Regions from separate parts of the Homo sapiens genome. Here region 1 is linked to region 2. Evidence: fine-mapped expression QTL. A gene starts in region 2. The other region holds a variant in brackets. All regions are shown on one strand. Distances are between the middles of the regions.

Region 1 (5,000 bases), 110 kb before region 2:
ATAAGATCCAGGTTAAACAATTTTAGCAAGAATGCCTCACAGGTAACCTGTGTGATTCATAGTGTATCACATCAGGAGGCATATAATGTCTGTCTTGTAATTAATGATGCTAATAACTTTGGCCACCTGGTTGAGGTAGTGACACACCAGATCTTTACATTATGTTTTCCTTTTTATGCTAGTAACTAACCTGAGGGGTGATATTTTAGCACCATGTGAATGTCCAGCTCTTCAGTAATCCTTCACTTAGACACATTAACATTTATAGGTGTCCCTTTCCTGAATCAGCTATTCTATAAGGGTTTTTAGAGTGGTGATTTTTCTAATTCTCTGATTTCTTTTTCATTTTTAGCTGGCAGTGTTCTATAAAGATCTGTCCCTTATTAGCTGGGGCTATTTGGTTACCTTGACATAGAGTTTCTATTGAAAATGCAGGATAAGTGCTTAATGCTCTTTATTTAATTGCTAATATTTAGAATAAAGAATTGGTATAATAATATCCGGTGGTATCAACTGCATTCTCTCTCCACCCGTTCCTCTCAGAAGCACCGTTTTGGACTCATGGATTTTTATATATTTAGTGTGTTATAGTTCTAACCATTATTCTGTTTGATACTGAAAAACTTATACATTTGGTCAGTGGGAGCTATTTCAAGCCAGTTCCTATCTGCTTTTAGCATAACTTTACTAATCTTTGAATACTTCCTTGTTTTCTAGCATATATCCTGGTATGATTTGTGAATTCCTAGCCTGAGACCTGAAATCGGCCATTTCTCCAAGATGCAGTGGTTTCTTTTAGCGGGAATGCTATTTAGATACCAAAATTTGAGTGAGCCTGATGCTTCTTGCTATTCGAGTATCCCTGCTTCTAAGCCTTTTTATGGAACAGAACTGGGAAACATGTTCTTTAAAAAATCATGAAGGTGTTTATAGACTAAGTTGCTTTGAACCAACCCTTTGCCAAAAATAACTAAAAGAGCTAAACAAAAAGTGTAACTATTTGAAATCACTGAAAGCTACCAGGGCAGTGAGAAATTGCAAAATCAAGATCTCAGCAAAGAGGGAAGCTCAGTTACATGAACCCAATCATTTGGGACTACCTTCCCCCTAAAGAGATCCTCTAATTCCTAATGCAGTGGGTGACAAATAGAATTTGAGTAGAGTTTTTGACAAACCCTGTGGTTGGGGAGTATAAAAATTGGAGTTCATGGCCGGGCATGGTGGCTCACACCTGTAATCCCAGCACTTTGGGAGGCCGAGGTGGGCAGATCCCCTGAGGTCAGTTGTTTGAGACCAGCCTGGCCAACATGGTGAAACCCCGTGCCTACTAAGAATACAAAAAGTAGCTGGGCGTGGTGGCAGGCATCTATAGTCCCAGCTACTTGGGAGGCTGAGGCAGGAGAATTGCTTGAACCTGGGAGGCAGAGGTTGCAGTGAGCCGAGATGGGTGACAGAGAGAGACTCCATCTCAAAAAAAAAAAAAAAATTGGAGTTCATAAGCAGATATTCAGGGCTTGTGGTTGGGACTCTGAAAGAATACCCCTTAGCAATAATAGTGACCTGGAAGTAGACTGGCTTTCACAAAGACTGAAGACCAGTTTCAAATAATCTCTATCCCCTGATAGGATTAATTAAGATTAGTTAAGAACCAATTGCCAGGACACTTAAGCTATATGTTTGCCAGAAGCAAATGTAATTCCTCTTTGGAAGAAGACAATATCATTCAGAAACTTAAATTATCCTGCAGATTTTCATATGTAGTCATTTCTCGGTATCTGAGGAGGATTGGTTCCAGGGTCCCTCCGCCCATACCAAAATCCATGGATGCTGAAGTACTTGATTTAAAAAGAAAAAGGTAATTGCATATAACGTATGTACATCCTCCTGTGTACTTTAATCTCTAGATTACTTATAATACCTAAT[G/A]CAATGTAAATGCTCTGTAAATAGTTGTTACACTGTATTTAGGGAATAATGATGGGAAAAGTCTACATGTTCCATACAGATGCAGCCAACCATTTGTTTTTTTAAATATTTTTGAGCTGTAGTTGGTTGAATCCACACATGTAGAACCCATGGATATAGTGGGCTGACTGTACAATATTGAGAATTCCATTCTTAAAAAATAAGTAAATGCCTTTTATTTATTACCATTTATATGATTACGAATATATCTCCCAGTTTGTAACATTTTACTTTCTTAATGGAGTCATGATGAATAAAAATTCTTAATTTCAATATAGATAAATATAAGAAGCCTTTTCCTTTTAGTGGTTATTGCCTTTGTGTCTTGTTTAAGAACTCCCCTCTCTCTCTCCCTCTCCCTTTCTCCCTCTCCCTTTCTCCCTCTCCCTTTCTCCCTCTCCCCCTCTCTCCCTCTCTCCCTCTCCTCTCCGTCTCCGTCTCCCTCTGTTGCCGAGGCTGGACTGTACTGCCGTGGTCTCGGCTCGCTGCAGCCTCCCTGCCCCGGGCTCCCGTGGTTCTCCTACCTCGGCCTGCCAAGTGCCTGGGATTGCGGGCGTGCGCCGCCACGCCTGACTGGTTTTTGCATTTTTGGAGGAGACGGGGTTTTGCCCTGTTGACCTGGCTGGTCTCCGGCTCCTGACCTCAAGTGGTCTGCCCGTCGTGGCCTCCCGGGGTGCTGGGATTGCAGACGGAGTCTCACTCACTCAATGCTCAATGTTGCCCAGGCTGGAGTGCAGTGGCGTGATCTCAGCTCGCTGCAACCTCCACCTTCCAGCCACCTGCCTTGGCCTCCCAAAGTGCTAAGATTACAGCCTCTGCCCGGCCGCCACCCCGTCTGGGAAGTGAGGAGCGTATCAGCCCAGCCGCCCATTGTCTGGGAAGTGAGAAGCGCCTCTGCCCGGCCGCCCCGTCTGGGAGGCGAGGAGCGCCTCTGCCCGGCTGCCCCATCTGGGAGGCGAGGAGCGCCTCTTCCCGGCCACCCCGCCTGGGAGGCGAGGAGCACCTCTGCCCGGCCGCCCCGTCTGGGAGGCGAGGAGCGCCTCTGCCTGGCCGCCCCGTCTGCGAAGTGGGTGCCTCTGCCCGGCCGCCCCATCTGGGAGGTGAGGGGCGTCTCTGCCCGGCCGCCACCCCATCTGGGAAGTGAGGGGCGCCTCTGCCCGGCCGCCCCGTCTGGGAGGTGAGGAGTGCCTCTTCCCGGCCGACCCTTCTGGGAGGGGAGGGGCGTCTCTGCCTGACTGCAACCCCATCTGGGAAGTGAGGAGCGCCTCTGCCTGGCCGCCCTGTCTGGGAAGTGAGGAGCGCCTCTGCCCGGCCGCCCCGTCTGGGAAGTGAGGAGCGCCTCTGCCCGGCCACCCCATCTGGGAACTGAGGAGCGCCTCTGCCCGGCCGCCCCGTCTGGGAAGGGAGGAGTGCCTCTGCCCAGCCGCCACCCCATCTGGGAAGTGAGGAGCGTCTCTGCCCGGCCGCCCATCATCTGGGAAGTGAGAAATGCCTCTGCCCGGCCGCCCCGTCTGGGAGGCGAGGAGCGCCTCTGCCCTGCCGCCCCGTCTGGGAGGCGAGGAGCGCCTCTGCCCGGCCGCCCTGTCTGGGAGGCGAGGAGCGCCTCTGCCCGGCTGCCCAGTCTGGGAAGTGGGCGCCTCTGCCCGGCCGCCCCGTCTGGGACGTGAGGGGCGCCTCTTCCCGGCCGCCCCGTCTGGGAGGTGAGGGGCGTCTCTGCCCGGCCGCCACCCCGTCTGGGAAGTGGGGGGCGCCTCTGCCCGGCTGCCCTTCATCTGGGAGGTGGGGAGCGCCTCTGCCTGGCCGCCCCATCTGGGAGGCTAGGAGCGCCTCTGCCCAGCTGCCCATCATCTGGGAGGTGGGGAGCACCTCTGCCCGGCCCATCATCTGGGAGGTGGGGAGCACCTCTGCCCGGCTGCCCATCGTCTGGGATGTGAGGAGCGCCTCTGCCCGGCCACCACCCCATCTGGGAAGTGAGGTGCGCCTCTGCCCGGCCGCCCCGTCTGGGAGGTGAGGAGCACCTCTGCCCGGCTGCCCCGTCTGGGAAGTGAGGAGTGCCTCTGCCCGGCCACCCCATCTGGGAAGTGTACCCAATAGCTCCGAAGAGACAGTGACCATCGAGAACAGGCCATGATGACGATGGCGGTTTTGTTGAAAAGAAAAGGGGGAAATGTGGGGAAAAGAAAGACAGATCAGATGGTTACTGTGTCTGTGTAGAAAGAAGGAGACATAGGAGACACCATTTTGTTCTGTACTAAGAAAAATTCTTCTGCCTTGGGATGCTGTTAATCTATAACCTTACCCCCAACCCCGTGCTCTCTGAAACATGTGCTGTGTCAACTCAGGGTTAAATGGATTAAGGGTGGTGCAAGATGTGCTTTGTTAAACAGATGCTTGAAGGCAGCATGCTCATTAAGAGTCATCTCCACTCCCTAATCTCACGTACCCAGGGACACAAATACTGCGGAAGGCCGCAGGAACCTCTGCCTAGGAAAACCAGAGACCTTTGTTCACGTGTTTATCTGCTGACCTTCTCTCCACTATTATCCTATGACCCTGCCACATCCCCCTCTTTGAGAAACACCCAAGAATGATCAATAAATACTAAAAAAAAAAAAAAAAAAAAAGAGAACTCCTCCTCTAACCTGAAATCATAAATGTATTCTCCTATACTGTCTTCTTAAAACACCACAGTTTTGCATTCCATATGTCTTCAGTCCACCTAGAATGAATTTCAGTGAAGGATGGAACAGGAATTCAATCATTTTGTTTTCTATTTGTCTTAAGCTGTCTCTCAGCATTGTTCATGGAAAATAACCTCTTAATGGTGTTAGTTTCCTTTGCCTAGTTTCGCATATAATAGACCTCTGTGAATGAATTTGAATAAAGGATAATATTTTGGTAGTGTGAAACTCTTTCTATAGGTTCCTTGTGGTTTTCAAATATATTGTCTAATTTACTAGTTGATTTTTTATTCTGTACACGTTATGTTCTGTTTTACTTAATTATAAGGGCCTCATTTACTACTGAAATCCTATTGG
Region 2 (5,000 bases):
GGAGAAGACACTGGGCCCAATCTGGATTCGCAGCCTCCCTCCGCAGCTAATTATGCAAATCTGGACAAGATTCCTTTTCCTAAATCTATTTCCTCATTCTGAAAATGAAGATATCACCACCTCCTCAAAGGATGGGGGCGGAGGGAGGAGATTTAAAAAATATATACATGTGAAGTTCCTCCTAGATTGCCTGCCTAACCCAACAGGTCCTCAATTGCTGCTACAGAAGGGAAGGGAACGCCTAGTCTCTCAACATCTGCCAAAGAACTAAAGACTGGAAAGTTTAAATAAAATCTTGTTTCCATTCAAATCACATAAAAACAAATGCACTAGAGAAAATTTTATTTGGCAGGCGAAATAAACCACAACAAGCACGACTGAAATCTAGTACACAAAGCCCAGCTTACAGAAAGGTTATAAGCCCAAAGCAAAAAGGTTGGCCATTCTTGCACCACAATATATTATCTCTATAAACATCAAAACCTGATTTGGCAGGAGAATGAGCCGAATGCAGGAAAAAACCAAACCTCACAGCCTATGACAGGAGCTCTGCTGTGGCATAGCTCTTGATCACTGGCCTGATGGTTAAGAGGGCAGCTTCTGGAGTAAAACTTCCTGGGTTTGACAGAATACAGGCTATGTCAATTCCTACGTATGTGTCCTTGGCAAGATGCTTAACGTCCCTCAGGCACAGTAGTTTCATCCATAAAATGGGGGCAATATTAGTACCTACCCCCAAGAACTGCTGTAAGGATTAAACGAGATCATAGTTGTGAAGTGCTTGCCACATGGTTAAATGCTCTTCGGTCACTCCTCCTTTTCAACAAGAGACAAGGCACAACACTGAAGCTTTAAAACATGCCTAACAGCATACCCCTTTCCTACAACTCTTTGCAGATAAATACCAGTTTGGGCATACACTGTCACCCTGAAAGTGTTCAAATGAACAGTGTTTCAGAAATCAACATATAATCAACTGCCAATGCTAAAACTTGCTGCCTTTATTTGAACATAGTTTAAGAAAAAGCAAAGATGATGGCCAAGTGAAGATTCTGAAACACATCTACTAGGCAGGGTGGAAATATCTTCTGTTCTGACAAGCTTCCTTCAAGTTATCACCACTTTGGAGTCTTTGTTAGGAACCTTTTTTCAGTTATTTTCGCACAAAGGAGTCTTTGTTGGTACAATGGCTTCCTCACTGCTTGTTCCCAGACAATCCTTTCACATCAATACTTCTATTAGGGAGCACAATCAGAATTCATCTGTCTTTGAAAAGATCTAACAGAAAAAGGTTCTGAGTGTCATAATGATTTAAAAAAAAATCACTGGCCGCACTTGTTCCCAATTCTCTCCCTCCCCTCATGCGTCCAAGTGCAGTATTTCTAAGCCAGTCCTCCAATATGCCATATATGGGACAGCTCCACCCCATCCCTCCATATATGGTCATATCCCACACCCACCCACCGGCTCATCACAGACAACCAGGAACCCACTCCTGCCCTGACCCACCATATACGGACAAACACCCATCCTAATACGCCAAACAGAACTTAAGCTCCTCCCTCTACACTCACTTCATTTTTAACAAGTCTGAAAGTTTTTTTAAAAGTTGAGTGAATAAATTAACAGGAACAAACAAACAAAACCAGCTGAAAGTACTTCCAAGCACTAACCTTCAATTCTTAATGACTCCAAACGTCACTTACAGGCCCTACCTAACGCTAACAAAAATACTCCTCCTCCTCTGCAGTAAAGATGAGACAGTCCTGGTGGGACACAGCACCGGCATTAATGAAGCGTGTCTGAACAACCCTAAGCCCATTATTAAAGCCAGGCAGCCAGGAGCTGTGGGCCAAACACAACTCGGCTCTATACAACCATTCCAAAGACTTTCAAGATCTAGCTTCCTGCACCTTCAGATCATATGCCAACTTTCTGGTCTCCGTTTTCAGAAAACGGAAGGAGGGAACCGATGGTCGCGTTACCACGGTAACTGCGAAACGTCCGGTGGCAGAGGCCCGGAGCCGCCTGTACCTTCAGATCCTTCTTGGTAACGTCGGTGTGGGAAACAGCTCGAATGGTCCCGGAGAGCCAGGGCCACTCGGCGACGCGCTCCACGTCCCAGCTGTCGTGGCTGCCATCGCTGCCGTCGGCTGCGGACAGACTGAGAAACCTCCTCCCCACCAATACCGGCCAACTTTCTCCGAGCGTGAGCACCATGGTTTCCACGCCTGCAGGAAGAGCTCCTCCCTGCAAAAACACAAAAACAAAATGCGACGGGGGCGGCCGGTGGGAGGGGGCCGGGCGGAGACAGCAGGGAGGGCGGGCGGAGGGCGCCGAACCCGCGCGAGGACGCGGCCCCGGGCGGACCCGCACCGAGCCCCCCTCCTGCGCCCTCCCGCCCCCCGCCGCCCTCCCCCGCCACACACCCGGGCCCCAGCGCCGCGTGACCCTCGCTCTCCCAAGTTTGGCTTTTCTAACAGCTCAAACGCAACCGCAGAGGGAGTGAGGGAAAAATTATCTGCGGCTCGAGTGGATTTGAAAGTGCTCAGCCCCCAGCCCCGAAAAGAAAAGGCCCCTGGTGCAGAGAGCCGGTCCCGGGCGGCTGGGTCCCCGCCCCGGGCGGCCCCACGGGGGAGGGTGGGCGAGCCCGCGATTCCGCACTTGCCCCGCCGCCCCGCCCCGGCGCCCAGCTCCCCGGCCCCGAACCCCGGGCGCCCGTCTCCCGGGCCTGCGCCGCTGCCAACGGGCGACGGGGCCGCGCGCTCGGCGCTTTCACCTTTCTCTCCCCTCTCCCCGCAGCCGAGGCCGCGGCGCTCTTACCCCGCCTCCCGCCTCCCTGAGTCACCGGCGGCAGCCGCCGTTTCCAGCCGCCTAGCCGACTCCAGCGCTGACTTGGTTCAAGAGCTCTCACAAGACACGCACAGCCTCCCGGACCCGCCCCCCTCGGAGCCGCTTCCGCCGCTCATTGGCTGAAACACAGGAGCTGGGCGAGGCTCCGGGGGAAACAGATCATCACCATTGGCCCCCCGGGCGAGGGCGGGGCCAGAGAAAAAAACAATTCCTTGGCTGCCTCCTCCCTTTCCCCTCCCCCTTCCGACTCCCGGGCGACCCCCATTAGGTTAAAGTACACAGAGAATAAGCGAGTGATCCCTCCGCCATAGGCCTATTCTTTCCATTTGTTGCCTCACAGTATGCAAAAAAAAAGTCCCGCGAAATCGGTTATCAACTTTGGGGCCCGGAGGAAAATTGCTGTGGCGCATAGATAAGACTGAATGGCGAGACCCTGAGCTATAAGTGCCTACTGGATTGTTCTTCAACCGCGTAGGCTGTCGACCGAAGATGAGCCTTCCACTTGGCGGAAGAATCTCACAGGAAAGGGTGAGGGCGGTGCAGGGTTAGCGGGGGAGGGCAGGGAAGAGAACGTGCGGTTTCAGGCGTACTCAGCTAGAGGGAGGAGCGATAGTGCTCTGGAGGCTCGTGCGCAGGCGCCTCGCCGAGCTTAGGCTGCTGGGCGAAATGGCTGCGGGAGGCGCAGGCGCACGTGGTACTGATCGTGGAACGTCTAAAGTCCGCCATTTTGAAGGATAAATGAAGAAAGGCGTGGAGTTACTGGATAATGACGTTCATTAAATTTAGAGCAAAAGAGACCTTTAAATACAATGTATAATGAGATTTTTTTTTCTCCAAAGTGGGATTGAGAAGGTATTCAGATACTTACAAAGAAATTTAAAGTAGTTGAAGGCCATAATGAATGATGGAAGAGATGAAAGAGAAGGTGACTTTGAAGGACAAAGGAGTTTAGAGGTGATTGTGTGCTCTGGACCTGAAGTATTTTGATTGAATGAAAAAGAAATGGAATGAAGAAATTGAAGATATGTTCATAAAGGCTAGTGTTTGACATTACATCACATTTAATCCTTAAGAAGAACTCATGCCTCCCATTTTACAAGCGTGGAAACGTATAATCAGAGAATGTTTGGAAACATATAAGGGATTATAGATGCAAATCAACTCTGGATGTTGATTTTCAATATACATATTCTGAATGTGATTTTAAGTTTTTAAAGTTAGTAACAAGAATTAAATTGGATTTATAATCTGTAGACCATTTAAAGGAAGGGGGCTGCTAAATGAGAAGAAAAAACCTATCCAGCTGAAAGAAGGCAGAAATGGGAACGAGATAAGCAAAAGAAACCAGAACATATGGTAAAAATGTTTTTCATGTGAAAAGTCCAAACATCAGTATTTACAATAAATGTAAATGGGTTAATTTCACTCACAAGTTTTAAAAGACAGTTGGGAATAAAAGGACAATCCAGCTATAAATTGACCATAAGCAAATGCTTACAAAACAGGAAGCTTGAAAATACTGGGCTAAAATATTTAATCAAATGGTAGCCAAATGAAAGCAGTATAGCAATATTAATACAATTAAAAGTATCAAAAGAGAAAGGATTTTATATTAAAGATAAAGTCCATGAAGACAGTATGGTCTCCTGAACTGTTATGAATCTAAAAACATGGCCTATCCTAAGGTGACGCTATGAACGATGAGAAATTTTACAAATTTGACAATTTGTTTTCAGAGTAGAAGACATAAATATCTCAGAAATATGCAACTCAAATGTAAAATATAAGGGAAGATATGGAGAACTTAGATTATGTAATTAAATATTAATTTGAAAAACAACTCAAGGGAAAAATTCTATTGAACCTGAAGGAACATATACTTTCTATGTTGAATTCATTATTTCAGAGCTTAGAAAAGATGGAAAGATATCCAATGCATTTTATAAAAGTTATAAAACCGTTTCACAAATTCTGAACTGGGCGAGTATAAGAAAGAAAAACTATGGTTCAATTATACTTAGGAACATAGATGGGAAATTCTTTTATAAAATACCAGCAAATTAAATCCAGCAGCATTTTTTTTAGGTAATTGATATGATTAATTAGTGTTATATGAATGCAAAGATACTTCAAGATTAGAAAATTAC

The links. PIP is the estimated chance that this variant, and not a neighbour inherited with it, causes the effect.
Region 1: its variant is the best candidate, but not a certain one, in a credible set for the expression of KDM3A in whole blood (INTERVAL, PIP 0.58).

Annotation. Positions count from the first base shown.
Region 1 is chr2:86,547,766-86,552,765 of GRCh38, reverse strand. All of the region lies in intron 3 of RNF103-CHMP3 (RNF103-CHMP3 readthrough), which reads left to right. All of the region lies in intron 1 of CHMP3 (charged multivesicular body protein 3), which reads left to right. Among named protein-coding and RNA genes, the nearest start is that of CHMP3-AS1, 12 kb to the left of the region's middle. RefSeq lists an enhancer at 1-47. The variant G/A (reference allele first, on the strand shown) is at 1,924.
Region 2 is chr2:86,439,268-86,444,267 of GRCh38, reverse strand. KDM3A (lysine demethylase 3A) reads right to left here and starts at 2,897. Exons shown (of 26, transcript NM_018433.6): 1 at 2,824-2,897; 2 at 2,035-2,250. The coding sequence starts at 2,220. RefSeq lists enhancers at 2,054-2,113, 3,104-3,183, 3,264-3,463, 3,285-3,828 and silencers at 2,314-2,363, 2,584-2,973.